Regions from separate parts of the Homo sapiens genome. Here region 2 is linked to region 1. The links come from fine-mapping of genetic effects on gene expression. A gene starts in region 1. The other region holds a variant in brackets. All regions are shown on one strand. Distances are between the middles of the regions. Region 1 holds the start of PPP2R5A (protein phosphatase 2 regulatory subunit B'alpha). Region 2 overlaps LINC02608 (long intergenic non-protein coding RNA 2608).

Region 1 (8,737 bases):
AGCACTGCAATCAACACCACTATTACTGGCCTCAATACCTCTAGTGGGACACAGTTGCTAAGAATGGACCAACAAAGAATCTTGAGTGCTACTTGGGAAAGTTTTACCTCTTCTGAAGGGGACTTCAATCTCAAAGCCAGTTTCAGCCTATCTTGCTATTTATTTCCCGGCTGTCTCCTAAGATGACTGCACATCTATATAATTCTACTGGTTAGGTTGATTTCTTCGCTTGGTAAAAAAATCTTATCACAGCTTTTAATGTTTTAAAGAGTCTGACTTAATCCTATTTCCATTTCTACACTCGTGCTGAAAGATGTTGCAGCTGCACTTCAGATCACATAAATCATATCTGAAAACTGATTATAAATAAAATCACTTTAAATACACTAGGAAAGTTTACCATTTAAGTAAGTAATCCTATTAATAATCCTTCATTTAAAAATATTTTTAATCTGGATTTTCAAATATTTAAGAGAATGGGAACTAACATTCTTTGCCTATTTTTAGGCACTTAAATTATTCCCCTTAATCCCCACAGGCCTGGGGAGATTTGTATTATCCCCATTTTACAGATAAGGAAAACGACTTAGAAAGATTAAAAATTTACCTTTGACCCAGGACTAACCCCAGAGACCCAACTCTATCACACTGCTTCAAATTTACATAAAACAGTTAACAGCACAAATACTGAAATCATTTGACCTAGGTCCCAGTGTCAGCTGCAACATCATCCAGATAAGTAATCACAGGCCAGAAACTATTCTTTTTAGGCCTCAACTTTCTCATCAATAAAATGGGAATACTGACCTTGCAAAAAGTTCAGGGATGACCCAATGAATAGGATGTTTGTAAAAATACAATGAGCCATGGATTATCAAACAACAGTATTACCCTTACTTACTAGGTGTGAAAAAGCAGGAGATACACAGGGATTAAGGGTTACATATCTTTGGATTGTTTCACTTGGTATGAACAATACTGTTTTATAATTTAAGAAAATTTTTAAGGTAAAATAATTTTAAAATGCTAAAATGTTATATAAATGTAAGGCATCAACTACTTTACCAAACCAAGCCTTCCAGAATCTTAAACAAAATAGGTTAGACTGAAAAGCCTTTTAACAAGGCTTGTTGTTTATTAAATACTTTCAATTATAAAACAATTTATTCTGAACATTTTTGCCATTAAAATCCCACAACCCACTTACTAAATTATTTTGCACAAATACTTCTTACAGGTGAAAAGGCTGGATTATTTTGTTAATCCTTACTATGGTTTGAGGAAAACTAGTTGGCACCTTTCCAGTTCAGATGCATGTGGTCAAAGTAACATAAGCAGGCTGGTATGAAACTTAAAAGATCTTGGAGTCCATGGATATCTGAATCACTCCACAGTAAGATGGTATTTCAGAGGAGGAAGAAAATTCTTTCTTTCATACACATACTAAAGGGCTTTCCATGTTTTTGTGAAGGCCACAAATGGAAAAAACTACCACTGGCAGAAAAAACACAACACTGTGGTATCAAGTACACTGCCAAAGTTCCAATTGAAGCAATTGAATGTTGGTGTTTTTTTTTTAAATCACTTGCAAGCATTTTGGCATCTGGAGTAAAAGAAGTTGTTCCTATTAGTTTGTAATCCAAGTAAGGGTCTTATTTCCTCAATTAAATTTGCATAAATTTATCCTGAATACATAATTTTCCTTATGATGAATACTGTATTTTCATGCAAATATCTACAATTAATGTAAAGTTCCAATTTACTTTCTTCTTTACTAGTGACCAAATACTATATGGCACCTTCAACTTGTTGAACCCTACATCATATAACTTAGATGATTACTGACTCTATGCATATTTTTCCAAGCTTTTAAAAGCAAAATGTGGCCAGGTGCGGTGGCTCACGCCTGTAATCCCACCACTTTGGGAGGCTGAGGTGGCCTGATCACCTGAGGTCAGGAGTTGGAGACCAGCCTCACCAACATGGTGAAACCCCATCTCTACTAAGAATACGAAATTAGCCGGCCATGGTGACACATGCCTGTAATCCCAGCTAGTTGGGAGGCTGAGGCAGAAGAATTGTTTGAACCCGGGAGGCGGAGGTTGCAGTGAGCTGAGATCGCGCCATTGCACTCCAGCCTGAGCAACGAAAGTGAAAAAATAAAATAAAATAAATAAAATAAAAGCAAAACCTATCAAAGCTGCATCTCCTGGCTTGAAACCAACCAAATGTTTAATATTCAATTACTTTTATTAAAGTATACTATTAAGAAGTACAATACTAAGAAACTAGAATATCTTACTAAAAAGCAAATTAAATAACTATGAAATAACCCTAGCACCAAACCTTCAAACTACAGTTTGACAATTTAATGGGAGAAAAAAAATCAGTAGTATAAAAAAACTATGATATTTTAAATAAGTGTAAATTTTAAAATCTATGAATAGCAAAGACGATATTCTTTTATAGCTATGACATCATTCAAGAATTAAAGTCTTGGCAATGCCTATCATTATAGTCTACCATTTTGCTATGTAAATTTTAACAATTTTTATATGCTAAAGAGCAATCAAATGATAAATTCGATAGCACAGACTAATATCTCAAAATCTCTGTTCAAAAGCCAGTTTGATTCTAACTGTGAGATGTCATGATTTAGAAGCACTCCAAGAGTCAGGGCAAGGTAGGGTCTCAATAGGGTTCTGGAGCTGTTGTAGGTCAACTGTGATTTGATCTGGGGTTTTCTTTAGACTCCTTGCCAAACTAAGGCTGGATTCACAGGCCCAAAGACAAATGAGAACCAGACTGGCCTTGAAGGGGATGCTGCAGCTTTTTCAAATGAATTGAAAAATCTGAACATCAGATGATAGGGATTTCCGTCAGGTTGCAAATTTTATCTAAATATGTAGGAGCATTATCATCTTGTTCCAACATTTCTATCTCATAAAAAGCAAGGACATTAAAATTATAAAATTAAGCATGAGTAATACACAAAGAATAAACTAGAACACCAGGAAATAACATCGAAAATCCTCTAAACCTAGTGGGAAAAGTGAGCCAAAAAGAGTGCCAAGTTCTCCTGCAAGGCATTAGGCACGGATACCAATTTGAATTCCTGTACAAACCTACAAAGTCCCTGGAATCACTGCCTGGCAAACTAAGTTCCCATTCGACTGCAAAGCAACACTACCTACTCCTTCGTATTTCCAAATAGACCATGTGTATCGGCTCAGACAACAGAATATTTTAAATCTATTCCTTGAGCTAAAGGATACCATTTAAAGCTAACGATCCTGTGAATAAGATACTACACTGGTCAAATTTTAGGCTTTTTCTTTATAAATACATCCAAAGGCCAGCTAACTCTTAACCGTTGTTTGCATTCGGATTCCTGGTCTGATGACTCTTAGGGGCAATCAATGGGAAGTGAAGTTGAGAAGAAGGTGGGTGCAGACGGCTTTATAACTGTAAAAGTAAAGGACTAGCTAAAAGTGGCCGAACAGAGGAGCTGACACTCGGGAAAGTGAAGGTCGGGGAAGGTTCGTGCGGTTGTTAAAGCAAGACCGGGAAAGGGCAAACCTGGAAGAGGAGTGAAGGACTCTACTTCACGGGACGCAAGATAGGAAGTGCAGGTTAAGCAAGCGCGCAGGTGGGGAAGGGTGTTGGCCTCCCCTAGGATGGAAAGAGTTCAGGTGGGAATTAGAAGGAAACAGCCAAGACTTCACAGAAAACCTGTTTGAATAAGGAGGAGGGCGTGAGGTGACGCCAAGGCATTGTGGGGAACTCGGCTCACACACTACCAGTCCCAACTGAGCAGGAGAAACCCAGCAGGAAATGGCTCTGCTGGCGCAGAGGCAAGCGTTGCCAGCCCCTGCGCTCGCTGCTGGGGCTGCGCCCTCGGAGGTTACCTTTGAGCTGGGGCAGCGGGTGCAGCTCTGCCTGGCTGCCCTGGCTGCGAAACTGCGACGAGCCCTGGGAGCGCTTCTGCCTCTGCGCCTTGCGGACCGATTTCCGGGTGAAGCCGTCCACTTTCTCCGAGGCCGAGATGGCGGCGCTGGCAGCCCCCGCCGGCGGCGACGACGACGACATCTCCGCGGCCCTGACGCTTGGCAGCTCCGGCTGCTGCTTGCAAGGCACGGGCAGCGGCGGAGACGGCAGGAGGAGGCGGGGGAGAGGCGCGGGGTGCTCGCGCCCCTGCGCCCCGGCCCCACGGCCCTCCGGCCCCGGGACGCCGCCGAGCTTCTCCTCGCCGCCCGCCAACGCCTCACGGCCACATCTCAGCGCTGGAGGTTCCTGGTCCCCGGCGCGCGGCGAGCTCCCGGGGCTGACGGAGGGAAGGGCGGGGGCGGAGGGGGGTGAAGAAGTTGTTGACTCTGGGCGCGCAGAGCGGGTGGAAGAGAGCCCGAAGTTTAGACAACTGAGGCGGGGGCACGGGGGTGCGGGTGCCGAGCGCGCCTCTCGTCGCTTCTGCCCCCGTCGCCAGCCAGCCGGCCGGCCAGCACCTCAGCGGCCGCTGCCAGCGCAGCCCGCCCTGCCTGGAGCCTCCTCTCAGGGCGCTGCCATCGCGGGTCCCCTCGGAGCCACTGCCGCGGTGCCCGCTCTTCCCGGTCAACGCCGGCCCCTCATCGCCCGGGGCGCTGCCCCGTAGCCCCGGCCCTCTGCGTGCACACACTCGCTCCTTGCCGCGCTGGGCGGCCCGAACCCCCTCCCCCACGCGCCCGTCGGCCGCCCACGGAGAACCCCAGGCGAGCGACCGCTACAACTTGAGAAGGTGGTTGGTACAGGCGACTGGGGAGTGTGTGCGCGTGTGCGCGCGCCAGGGCGCGCGGCCCGGGGAGGGGCCTCGCAAGGGGTGGGAAGGAGGAGTTTGACTGACAACTTCCGCGGGGTCCCGCCCGCCTCTTGGTGCGGCGGCGGGGGAGGGGGCGGGAAAGCATGCCAGCCCTCTTAGCCAATCACACGGCTAAGCGGCAGCGACGGCGTGAGGTGCGGCCTCTTGAGGCAGAGGAGTGGGGCGGGCTGTGTGACGGGCTTCGGCCACAGCCAATCGTAAGTGAAGACGGCGAGCGGGGTGCCCCTGCGTCAGAACAAATGCGGCAAATCGCTTGGGAGGGAGGGGAAGCGCTCCTCCACCAGCGGGCATTTTTGCGCTCACGCGCGACTGCTCCAGGCTGTCATTGCTCTCCTGACCGTCTACGAGAAGACTGGGAAACTTGAGAGGGTGCGTTCAGAGAGCAAAATAGAGCGCCCCTTCCCTTCCCTCACCTCTCTGCTGGCCAATGAAGAACTGAAGCGATTGGTGGGGCGCCGGAGGGCTGGGGCGCGAAAGAGCGCCAGGTGTTACACCACTGAAAGGGGGCGCAGCAGAGGTCAGGTGGCGAGCAAGCAGTGTGATTGACGGGCGAGGGGCCCGGGGAAGGCGAGAAGGTGAGCTCGTCCAATCGTTGCGAGGTCTGGACACCTGGGCGGGTCTTGGCGCCTTACTGGCCCCAAACCGCAAAATTGGTAGTTGCGGAATAAATTTGTAGCTCTTGGGAGGTTCGGACTCCGCAACTCCAGAGAGCTACTCTCGCGTGGGGTTTGGGCAGTCTAGCATCTGCTGCTTCAAAGAGTTCTGCAAGTCCACGCCCTCTAAAAAGAGATTTCTCATTCCCAATTTAGTATCCTGCTAATTTTCACCCCTCCTTGAGCCAAAGGCCCTCAACTACTCCAACGAGAAGAGTACAAATTCATTGGTCAGTGGTGTGTGGATATGGAGGCTTGCCATGTACTCTTACCGGAATCTCTTTCTTGGAGATTCCGTCTAGATTTTGAATTTCTTAAGGACGAGGACTGGTCATCTTAGTTTTTCGTGCAGTGCTTTCCATACGGTGGCCGTTAATAATTATTAATCTGAACAGTCAGCCTCCCTTTGCGCCAATGGACCCAAATCTGTAATCCCCTCCCTCGAGCTCCAGACCTTTTCCTTTCAACATAATAAAAGTAATTGTCGTATATTTAAACGAAGCCACCTGATGCATATGTACAGAAGATTCCAAATTTGGCAGGAAGTTGAATTCTAGACCTAGAACCAAACATACTATCCTCAAAACATTTCCTCCTTCAGATTTGCTGGGCGGTGAAATTGTACATAATCCTCCCAGTCAAGGAGGTTCAAACCTCAGCAGCGTTTCTGACACTTTTCGCTTTCTCACATAGTCAAGCTCCAGATCATGTTAAATCTACTTTCACAATTGGCGTTTCTCCCAATGTGTACAAAGACCGCCAAACGTAGTTCACGGCTTTCAAACTCACTGCCACATCAATCTTTTAAGATCACTTTTATCTTACCTGCGTGTTTGAGGAACCACCCAATACCTGCAGAATAGAGTCCAAATTCAAGACTCTCTGCGATCTGACTCCTGTCTTTCCAAGTGTAAATTCCTACATGTGCCCACAAAAACTCTTTTTAGTTCAGGCACATCATTCCACATACTGATCCCCTAAAAGAAGTTATGCATCCTCAACACTTAGTCTTTGCTGTTCCAACATCTTGAAATAATCCACTTTTTTTTTTCTTTTTTGAGACGGAGTCTTGCTCTGTCACCCAGGCTGGAGTGCAATGGTGGCACAATCTCGGCTCACTGCATGCTCCGCCTCCCGGGTTCAAGCGATTCTCCTGCCTCAGCCTCCCGAGTAGCTGGGATTACAGGCACCTGCCACCACGCCCGGCTAATTTTTTGTATTTTTAGTAGCGACGGGGTTTCACCATGTTGCCCAGGCTTGTCTCGAACTCCTGACCTCGTGATTCGGCCACCTCCGCCTCCCAAAGCGCTGGGATTACAGGCGTGAGCCACCGCGCCCGGCCCATTTTTTTTTCATCTTTTTGAAATTTCTTTTCTTCAAACCCCCTATCTTTTATGAAGCTTGACAATCCAGCCAGAAGTGATGCCTCCCTTCTTTGTATTCCTATTGCATTTAGTGTCCACACCACTCACAGCTGAAAGTTTGTCAACACCAAGAGAGCAAGAACTCAGTTATTTTATTTTACACCTCTGTTTCCCCTACTGAGCAGAGGATAACAATCACATTTTTAGTTCTCAACAGCAGAATTTCTGAAAGCGTGGTTACTGGATCACCTGCATCAGCATCCTCTGGGGTGCTTATTGAAAATGCAGATTCCTGGACCTCCCCCGCCTCCCCCCAACAGAACTAGAACCTATGGGAAGAGCACTGAGAAGTCTATTTTTAATAACTTCCCTAGGTTATTCTTATGTACACAAAAGTTTGGAACTACTATTCTCTAGTCATCTAGAAGTTATTAAAAACAGAATGTAAATGTCTGTAAGTCAGGAGTAGTACTATTTATAATAATTTACATAAAATAAGAAAGGGAGACAAATAGCAGAAAGAAAATCAGTACAGGCCGGGCGCAGTGGCTCACGTCTGTAATCCCAGCACTTTGGGAGGCCGAGGTGGGTGATCACGAGGTCAGGAGTTTGAGACCAGCCTGGCCAACATGGTGAAACCCTGTCTCTACTAAAAATAAAAAATTAGCCAGGTGTGGTGGTACGAGCCTGTAGTCCCAGCTACTCAGGAGGCTGAGGCAGAAGAATCGCTTGAACCCGGGAGGCGGAGGTTGCAGTGAGCCAAGATTGCGCCACTGCACTCCAGCCTGGGTGACAGAGTGAGACTCCGTTTCAAAAAAGAAAAAAAAAAAAAGAAAAGAAAAAAATAAATACAATAAAGCAAATTCTGTAAGTCAATACAATAAATCATATTCCATGTTCATACTGGAATGTGATAAATAATAGATACTGGATATAATAGAAAATACTGGAAACAAGTTTTTGGGAGTCTTGGAACCAGCAAAAACCATCTGGGCTTTGGTGAAACAGCCTCTTGGGGAAGAATTTTGAGCATAATTTTAAAGATCAAGTCAAAACCTGAAAAGAGAGGATGGCATTCCAGATCAAGTCACTAAGCATTTTCCAGGGGGAAGAACAAAAGCCCAAGAATCAAAATGCCTGACTCTGTGCTACTTATCAATAGAATGATTCTGTCCAGTCACTTTTTCCACATGTGTACATCAGAAAAAAAAAATGACAACCTTCTTCACAGGGCTGGCATGAGTTTTAAATATGACCCAAGAAAAAACACTCAGGGAAATAAAAATTATGTAGATGAAAATATTATGCATACATGTATATCAAACGTTTATTTTCCGTCCACTATTTTGAGTAAATAAGGTATCTGGGTCCTAGACAGAGATTTGGTCACTAAGAATCATCTAATAGGAAACTGCAATGACAGTACTAATCTATATGTGCCCCTGAAGCAGGAAGAGTGTCTTTGATTCCATGCCATAGAATTTCTGATCCTTCCCATATGTGAAGCTCCTTGGTCAAGAGCAATTTAGAGGCCAGGATTGCATCACTAACAAATTCCTTGGATGGTTTGTGCTTACATTACTTAACTTCCTTAGTTTATAAACGTATATACACTTACTGACCTTATCCTTTTGTTGAGAAAAATGATGCGAGAAAAAGTAATATCCACAACATCAAAATAATGGTTGTGTAATGGTTTTAAAGAGCACATCACAGAGAGTGTTCTTTTCAAATCACTGTGAAATTCTCTAAAGCATATCCAAGCAAAGTTTTGACTGTCAACATTCTCTTTCCTTAAGAGTCATGATTCCCAAACTGCTCCAATAGAACACCAGACCAAGGTGCCGGATCTACAGAATCAAAGAGTG
Region 2 (8,737 bases), 60 kb after region 1:
TACATGACTCTTCACCCCTGAGTACATATATGTCATGTACTGGCCTTCAAGAGTGATCTTTCATTTCAGCTTTCATTTCTTCCAGGATTCCCCAGGATCAACCATCTGAGCAGATACCTTGGAATGTCCCCAGATTTCAGAGGTAAGTCACTAGTACTGTCCCACAGTAGTAGACATCATTTCTGCCCTGCCCCTGTGGTCCTAACCATATGCAGTGACATCAAAATCTGGTGTCATATCTCATGGAAGACCCATACCCCCAAAGCCCTTCATCCCATTCCCTTTATCCAGTGCTCATAAACCATGTGAATGACCTGGCCTGCCAGGTAAAGGCCTTGAGCCCTGCTCCTTTTTCAGCCACTCCCAATCAATCTGCCATCATCTCTTCCAGGAAGCTTCCTGCCTTCTCTCCCAAGCCAAGCTGGATTAGGGACCCCTACATTGAGCTCACCCTGTACTTATCTCTATCGTTAACCACTGTACTGGAATGATCTGTGCCTCCATCTGCCTCCCACGCTAAACTGAGTTCCAGGAGGGCTGGGGCCATGTGTTATTCATCTCTGCATCTCCAGCATTTAGACTGTGACTAATATATAGTAAGCAGGCAGTACATGTTGAAAGAAATAAATAAAGGTGGGGAGAGGAAGGGAGGAGGGAAAAGAAAGAAAGCAAGGAAGAAAAAAAGAAGAGGGCGGGCGCAGTGGCTCACGCCTGTAATCCCAGCACTTTGGGAGGCCGAGATAGGTGGATCACAAGGTCAGGAGATCGAGACCATCCTGGCTAAGGCAGTGAAACCCTGTCTCTACTAAAAATACAAAAAAATAGCTGGACATGGTGGCGGGCGCCTGTAGTCCCAGCCAGTTGGGAGGCTGAGGCAGGAGAATGCCGTGAACCTGGGAGGCAGAGCTTGCAGTGAGCTGAGATTGCACCACTGCACTCCAGCCTGGGCGGCAGAGAGAGACTCCGTTTCAAAAAAAAAAAAAAGAAGAAGAAGAAAGGGAAAAGGAGGAAGGTAAGGAAAGAATGAAAGTCATAAGAAGAAGGAAATAATGAGAATAGGCTGGATCGAATTCTGTAGAATAATTCCCAATGTCCCTGAACAGTGACGCTAAAGCCCATCCTTCTCTATATTTAATCTTCCAACATCTTCTTCTCTGTTACTAGTATAAAAACAGAATAAGTTTATATGGGCCCATTAAAATCATTGTCTAAATAATCATGATGATTCCTGGAGCCCTAGGTCATCAGAAACCCCTATAAAGTCCTCTCTAATGACAGCAGGACATAAAACCATCACCAAACACAAACACTGAACCCTTTCCTCGTCACAAATACACACTCCACTCAGCGGCCAAGGTCAGTCACTTCTTGTGTACATGAACCCTCCCCGGTCCGCCCCTGCTGACAAACATTTCCACACACATCCAAGGAGAATGAGAGAGGGACCAAAAAGCTCTTAGGAATTCAGTGGCATAATCACCTTACAGGTATCACCACAAATGGAGAGGGGCAGGAACCCAGAAAGGCAAAAGGCAAAACAAAACAGCTAGATAATCAAGAAAGTATCCACATGTTTACACACACACACCTACTCAACAGTTTAACTTCCCTAATAATGTTTTGCTCCGATTAATAATTAAATGGCCTGTGTACTTTGAATAGACGCCAACTACTTCTCAGCAAGGAGAAGTGGTAGAGAACATATCAACGAGGTCAGCCCGGAATGAAAATGAGCCAGTCCACCATGAAGATAATCAAGAGCTTCTTGCATTCATTCCCTGTATCTGCTCAAAATTTTTAATTCAAATTTGCTTAACTCAAAATTTTGTTTAAGTCAAAATTTTAGGGATTAGAGATGAGGTGTGGAGAAAGTTCACTTTAACAACTTTGTTCTATTCCAGCCAATTCAGTCATTGTTCTCTCCACACAGAATAGAAGCAATAGTTTGATCCTGAAGCCTGAGCTAAACTCTGTTGGTTGTGTTTGGAGGACAGCTCCCCTTGGCTTTGTGGGCTAACCCCCATGTGTCCTCTCTCTCCCTTCAGCAGATGCTCCCTTACGGATACCACGCCATCCCTCTGAACACAGTATATATTCCTCATGATTCATTGTGGTCAGGAATTTAATTACTGACCACAAATTTTGTGGGAATTATCTCCCAGGGAATTGGGAAAATGAGTGTGATTGTAGGAAAAGATAATCTATTACAGATTATTTTTAAAATAATGTCAAATGTTAATCTTGTATATGGGAAGAGAGGGAAAGACTAAGTTAAAGATAGCAGAAGGTCTGAGGGATCCCAACTAGTGCTCAGGTAAGGAGGATGGGAAAGAGGGAAAGGAGAATGCGAAGGAAGAAGGCATATTTGGACAAAAGGCACATGCCACATGGAATCGTTTTCCCCCAATCAAAGGAGTGTGGGTGCTTCCCAGGAGGGCACAGTGTCACTCTCCAGGTACCCACCTGGCATGGAGGCAGGGGGGCCTGCCCGTGCCTGCCTCTTTCCCACTCTCCTTTTTCTTCCTTCTTCCTCCCTGCCTCCTTTCCTTCCATCCACTTTTACTGACCACCTGTGTGTTAGGTGCTGTGGAGGTGGTGGGAATATAAAAACAACAGAAGAGTCTCTAATGTCCAGTCATTAAGCAGTAGCTAGTAACCAACAAGTTCAGCAAAGCAAGCTATGCAACCATATCACAGGGCTTGTGCTAATAAATGTGGCGGGGCCCAGTGTGCCTCAGTGGAGGCAGCAGCCATTTCCACCTGGCAGCCAATAGTTGATTTCAGCAACAATATTGTTCTCAAAATTTCCCCACACCTACCGCTCTAGAATAAAAGAAAATAGAGACATGACAACCAAATGCAATGTAAGAGTTTTGATTGGATCTTGTTTGAAAAAAAAACATCCAAAGTCCATTGACTTTGGAGAATCAGAAGAGGGAGGATGAGAGAGGGGTATGGGATAAAAAACTACATATTGGGTACAATGTACACTACTTGGGTGATGGGTGCATGAAAATGTCAGACGTCACCACTCTGCGGTTCATCCACGTAACCAAAAACATTTGTACCCCAAAAGCTACTGAAATTTTTTAAAACACACACACACACAAACATCTGTTAGAAGACATATTGGGAAACATTTTGGAAAATGTTATATGATTTGGGAATTGGGAACCAGGGGATATTAGGTAATTATCATTAATTTTCTTAAGTGTAAAAAAGGTTACTGTGAGTATGTCAGAGGATGTCCTTATTTTAAAGAGATGTGTGCTGAAGTATTTAGGGATGATGTCTGTATCTTACATTGAAATAGTTTAGGAAAAAACATATATTTGGTAAAATGTATACAACTGTAGAATCTAGAAGAGGGATTTCAGTGTCAACTGTACTATTATTTCACCTTTTCTATGCATTTGAAATTTTTTATAATAAAAAATTTGAATAAAAAATTATCTCCACTTGCTAGCTGTAGGCCTTTAGTAGAATAAAGCCTTCTGTGTGTCAATTAGCTAACAAATAATCATAACTAACATTTGTCATGTGACAGGCAATGCTGAGAGCTGGCATGCAATAATTTCAGTATGAGCTTTTCTTTACAGAGAGGAAAACCGAGGCTTGGCAAGGTTAAGTTCTTATCCCAAGGCACGCAGATAGTAACTGTCAGGGCCAGATCCCAGCCTGGCTTTGATCTGGTTCTAAACTACCCACTCTTAACTGCCAACTTCTACTGACAGCCTTCTAGAAAAAACCCTGACATTCAATGTCTGGGTGAAGTAATAGTAACAGGAATCATTGCCATGAAGGGCAGTCTGTCAACTTGGGCGTGCAAACAACCATCCTAAGAGCCTTTCTTGCTCTGATAGGGAGAAAAAAAGGCTTCGGGGGCTACCAGAGGAGAAGAGGCCATCAGTGAGTGAGGAAAGGGCATGGAGAGAGGAAGTGGGGAAGGGAAACGGCCTCACCTTATGGACCTGCAGTTCTGTGGGACGAATTAAAGCTGTAAAGCAGGTATTTTTGACTGGAGCAGCAGACAAATGTTTCTGCTTAGTAGAAAAGTTACTGCAGTCAATGCTGTTCCACATCACTAATGAAGGCTGAAAAAAACCACAGCTGAAAGGTATAATGGTGCTTTCTTCTAGAGGGTTGCTTAAGCAAGGTCTCATTGTGCCTGAAGTCTGTATTATTTACTGGCCATTCAGGATGTGCAATGCGATTTAAGAGAGCGGTGCTGGGCTGCATTGAGCCAGCTATACCCTCTTACTCAGTCCCCTGTACAACAGGGCCAGAGAGAGTGGAGGGCAGGATGTGCCCAGCCAATTGGCCTCTATAGGAATTTCAACCATGACCTCGACCTTATTTGCTCTCTGCTCCAGTCTCCTGACTAACCAACCATTGCATGGCAGAGCCTGAGTTCCACAGCCAGCCTGGCGGAGCCACCATGTAATAGTCCAGGGTCAAGCTGTATTTTGCTTTTGGTGTATAAAATGCAAGAACTGGAGAAATCATGTAAAAAGTCAGGAGGAGGTAAACATTTCAAGCACCAGCCTCCCCGGAATTCGGCATTAGAACAAAAGCCACTTCCTTCAGTGCCCTTTTCTTACAGAGCAGCTTTTCCTGTGAGGAGAGAGTTACGTCATTAACACCTTGGTTAGTGGGGTGTTCTGAGTTGTCGGGATTAACCATCTAGGCAGTGGGGTGAAGGGTCCCGTTATGCAGAATGTGGGGACTGCCCCTGAGATGTTTTTGTTTTTAAAACACAATTGTGCCAGCTGATCTCAGTACACATTTCTAGAAAAATCACAGCCTATGACATCACAGACCTTCCTTTCAGCCTCGGACCAGCAGCAACACACTCTGAAGTAGGTCTCAGAAGACAAAAAGCTGAAATCAACTCATGCTTCCTGCTACACAGAATCCACTGAGAGGAAAAGGAAACTTCACCGAAACTTCAGAAAGCTACAGAAATGACATCCATTTTCACAATCCCAGAAGGAAAGATGCATCTGAAGGGAATAAAAACAGAGCAATGGAAGAGTATTTGTTAAAATAAATGGCTTTGACAGGGCATTTTCTCTAAAGGTCTCCTTTGCCTCAAATAGTACTCCTGCCTTCAGTCCATCTTGCATGCCACCCAGCTGTGGGCATCCTGGCAGTTGCTGCCATGTCCTTGCCTAAAAGCCTCCACCCCCAACCAACCCACCCACCCCACAACTGGTCTCCCTTTCTCTGGCTTCTTGGAGCAATAAGACC[CCCTTCTCCCA/A]GTGGGGGATCTTTCTGAAAGGTAAACATGAACCCACTCCTCTCCTGCTCAAAAATAGTGGCCGGCTCTCGATCTCCCCAAAGATAGAAATGCACACTTTGGCCGGATGTGGAGGTTCATGCCTGTAATCCTAGCACTTTGGGAGGCCAAGGCGGGTGGATCACCTGAAGTCAGGAGTTGAAGACCAGCCTGGCCAACATGGTGAAACCCTGTGCCTACTAAAAGTACAAAAATTAGCCAGGCATGGTGGCACACACTTGTAATCCCAGCTACTTGGGAGGCTGAGGCAGGAGAATTGCTTGGACCTGGGTGGCGGAGGTTGCAGTGAGCTGAGATCGTGCCATTGCACTCCAGCCTGGGTGACAGAGAGAGACTCTGTCTCAAAAAAAAAAAAAAAAAAAAGAAAGAAAGAAAAATAAAAAGAAATGCACACTTTATTTGGCACCCGGGCCCTAATGACCTTTCTCCTGCCCGGTTTTCCCAGACTGTCTGCTACCACACGGTGTGTGCAGCCTTTCTCCCAATCACACGGACTCCTCTGAATGCATGCCTGTCTTTCTTGTGTGGCGTCTGCCTGTGCCTTTGCACTCACTGTCCGCTTGTCTAAAATGCTCTTCCTCCAAATCCACAGAGAAAACATAACCCAAATGCCACCTCCTCAGTGAAGCCCCTCCAGAAGTTTCTTTCTTTCTCTCTCTCTGTCTCTCTCTCTCTCTGCGTGTCTCTCTCTCTCCACACACACCCTGCTCACCTCCCCAGCCACACAGGTATCACTCCTCTTTTCAGGGCTCTGCTCTGTTCTCTGTTCACAGATCTGCCACCCACACTAGTCTGTGAGCACTCTCTTGGGGACAGAGCCCATGAAGTGCTCATCTTTGTGTTCCCAGTTCTTAGCCCAGTGCCTGGCACCCAGTAGGTGCTTCATAATCTAAGTCCCCCAACCAGCAAGGCCAAATTCTGCTTTTTCCAAGTCATCCTCAACACTCCATAGGAAAGAGTTCTGCTACCACAGAACAATGTATTCTATATTGCCTATAAATTATTACATTTCTCTCTTCCTGGAGATATATATATAGATACACACACACACACACACACACACACACACACACACACACATATGTATATATGGATATATAGGCACCCGGCCTATACAACCTAAATCTTAACAGAAACTCTTGGCTTCTGTATGAGGGACAAATGGAGTCAGTCTTTAGGCTAACATTTTTTCTATAAACTAAGATTTTAAAACAATTGATGTTGATATCTTAAAGGGTCAGTCAACAAATTAATTAATCAAAATTATCTCCTAAACAACAGCCAAGGGCTAATGGAAGGGTGGGAGAGAATTAAAAAATGTGACTTCCCTAAGGCATATTATAGTTTAATAGGACAAAATTTTAAAAATTCGATAATTTAAAAAATTTTTTAGAGACAGGGTTTTGTTCTGTCACCCAGGCTGGAGTGCAGTGGCATGATCACAGTTCACTACAGCCTCAAGCTCCTGGGCTCACACGATCCTCCCACCTTAGCCTCCCAGTATCTGAGACTACAGGTGCATTGCACTGCACCCAGCTAATTTTTAAGAATTTTTTTGTAGAGGCAGGTGTCGCTATGTTACCCAAGCGGGTCTTCAACTCCTGGGCTTAAGTGATCCTCTTGCCTTGGCCTCCCAAAGTGTTAGGAATATAGGTAAGAGCCACTGTGCCCAGCCTACATCCTAAAATACACTATACACACACACACACACACACACACACACACACACACTGCACTCCAGCCCAGGTGACAGTGTGAGACTCCGTCTCAAGAAAAAAAAAAAAAAGATTTAGGTTGTATATTCAGAAGTTGCAGGAATGCAGTGGCCTAATAGGATAAAACGTCCTGGCACTGTGACCTGGCCTCCTTCCCCATTGTCTGTCCTCTTGCTTGGCCTCTTCTCAGGGTGGGCTCTGCTCTCCCTCCCCAGGGCCAAAGGATTCAGAGGCAACCCAAGATTTACGCATCGAATTCCTCACCAATTTTCTTGCCATCACCCTTGTGGGGTCTGGCTCTCTGCTGTTGCAGTAATATTTTTATTTATTTATTTTATTTATTTATTTATTTATTTTTGAGACGGAGTCTCACTCTGTCACTCAGGCTGGAGTGCAATGGCGTGATCTTGTCTCACTGCAACCTCTGCCACCCATGTTCAAGCGATTCTCCTGCCTCAGCCTCCTAAGTAGCTGGGATTACAGGTGCCCGCCACCACTCCCGGCTAATTTTTGTATTCTTAGCAGAGACAGGGATTCACCATGTTGACCAGCCTGTTGCAGTAATATTAATACTTCATCAACAGGACCTGCCACTCTCTAACCTGCCATCATTCAGTGGCTATAAAGGAGAAAATTAATATACATTGCTTCTTCCAAAGTGACCCTGGAGAAACTTTTTTCCCCCCAATTGTCACTACTTCAGAAATTCTAAAATGAGATTGGGGAAGTTGAAGGATATGTGAAAAGTTCTCCCTTGGCTTCCACCTGCCATTTGTTATCACCAGCTATCTGAAGAGTCCAGTTGCCTGGAGGCCTTCAGCTAGGATGATGGTATTCTTTTTTTTTTCTTTTTTCTTTTTTTTTTTTTTTGAGACAGAATCTCGCTCTTTCGCCCAGGCTGGAGTGCAGTGGTGTGATCTTGGCTCACTGCAACCTCCACTTCCCAGGTTCAAGCGATTCTCCTGCCTCAGCCTCCTGAGTAGCTGGGATCACAGGTGCATGCTACCACACCCGGCTAATTTTTTTGTATTTTTAGTAGAGATAGGGTTTCACCATGTTGGTCAGGCTGGTCTCAAACTCCTGACCTTGTGATCTGCCCGCCTCGGCCTCCCAAAGTGCTGGGATTACAGGCATGAGCCACCATGCCTGGCCTGGGATGGTGATATTCTAGGCAGTGTCTCCAGGCTGCCAAGTAAAGCAGTTTCAGAATGGCCTCAGGGTTGATGTCAGCCAAAGGAAAGCAGCTGGTGTCTTTATCCATGACCCTCCTTCCATCTCCATGACTCTGCATTATCCTCCCATGGCCATCCTGCCACAAACTCCCCCTCAAAGGCCTTAGCAGAGGGCCAAGAATTTGTTAGTTGAGGGAAAAAACTTGTTTCAATGTCAAACTGACATTCCTAAGGGCTCCTGCAGCCTCCCCTACCGGAATCCTTCAGATCCTGGGCTTGAATGTTGGTGAGATGGGAATCTAAGTCTGTGCAGCTGTGCAGTCAAGGAGTGGCCAGGTGTTAAGGACATGAGGACAGGGTCAGAGACTAGTTACTGGAGAGATGGACACACATGGGCCCAGGACAGCCTGAGAAGGCCATAAAAAGTCCTGGCATTGTGCCCCAGCCACCTTCTCCATTGTCTTTCTTAACGACACGATCACTGTTAACCAATGGTGGCCCAAACCAAATTCAAGGTCCTGAGAACCCCTTCAAAGAAGGGGAGGAGCGAA

Evidence for each region.
Region 2: its variant is fine-mapped to the expression of PPP2R5A in lung (TOPMed, PIP above 0.99).

Annotation. Positions count from the first base shown.
Region 1 is chr1:212,281,463-212,290,199 of GRCh38, reverse strand. It overlaps PPP2R5A (protein phosphatase 2 regulatory subunit B'alpha), which reads right to left and starts at 4,790. Exons shown (of 13, transcript NM_006243.4): 1 at 3,909-4,790. The coding sequence starts at 4,089. It overlaps LINC02608 (long intergenic non-protein coding RNA 2608), which reads left to right and starts at 5,179. Exons shown (of 4, transcript NR_125984.1): 1 at 5,179-5,221. RefSeq lists a silencer at 4,058-5,027 and enhancers at 5,198-5,277, 8,544-8,713.
Region 2 is chr1:212,221,608-212,230,344 of GRCh38, reverse strand. It overlaps LINC02608 (long intergenic non-protein coding RNA 2608), which reads left to right. Exons shown (of 4, transcript NR_125984.1): 3 at 86-142; 4 at 4,832-5,067. Among named protein-coding and RNA genes, the nearest start is that of LINC02608, 59 kb to the left of the region's middle. The variant CCCTTCTCCCA/A (reference allele first, on the strand shown) is at 5,251.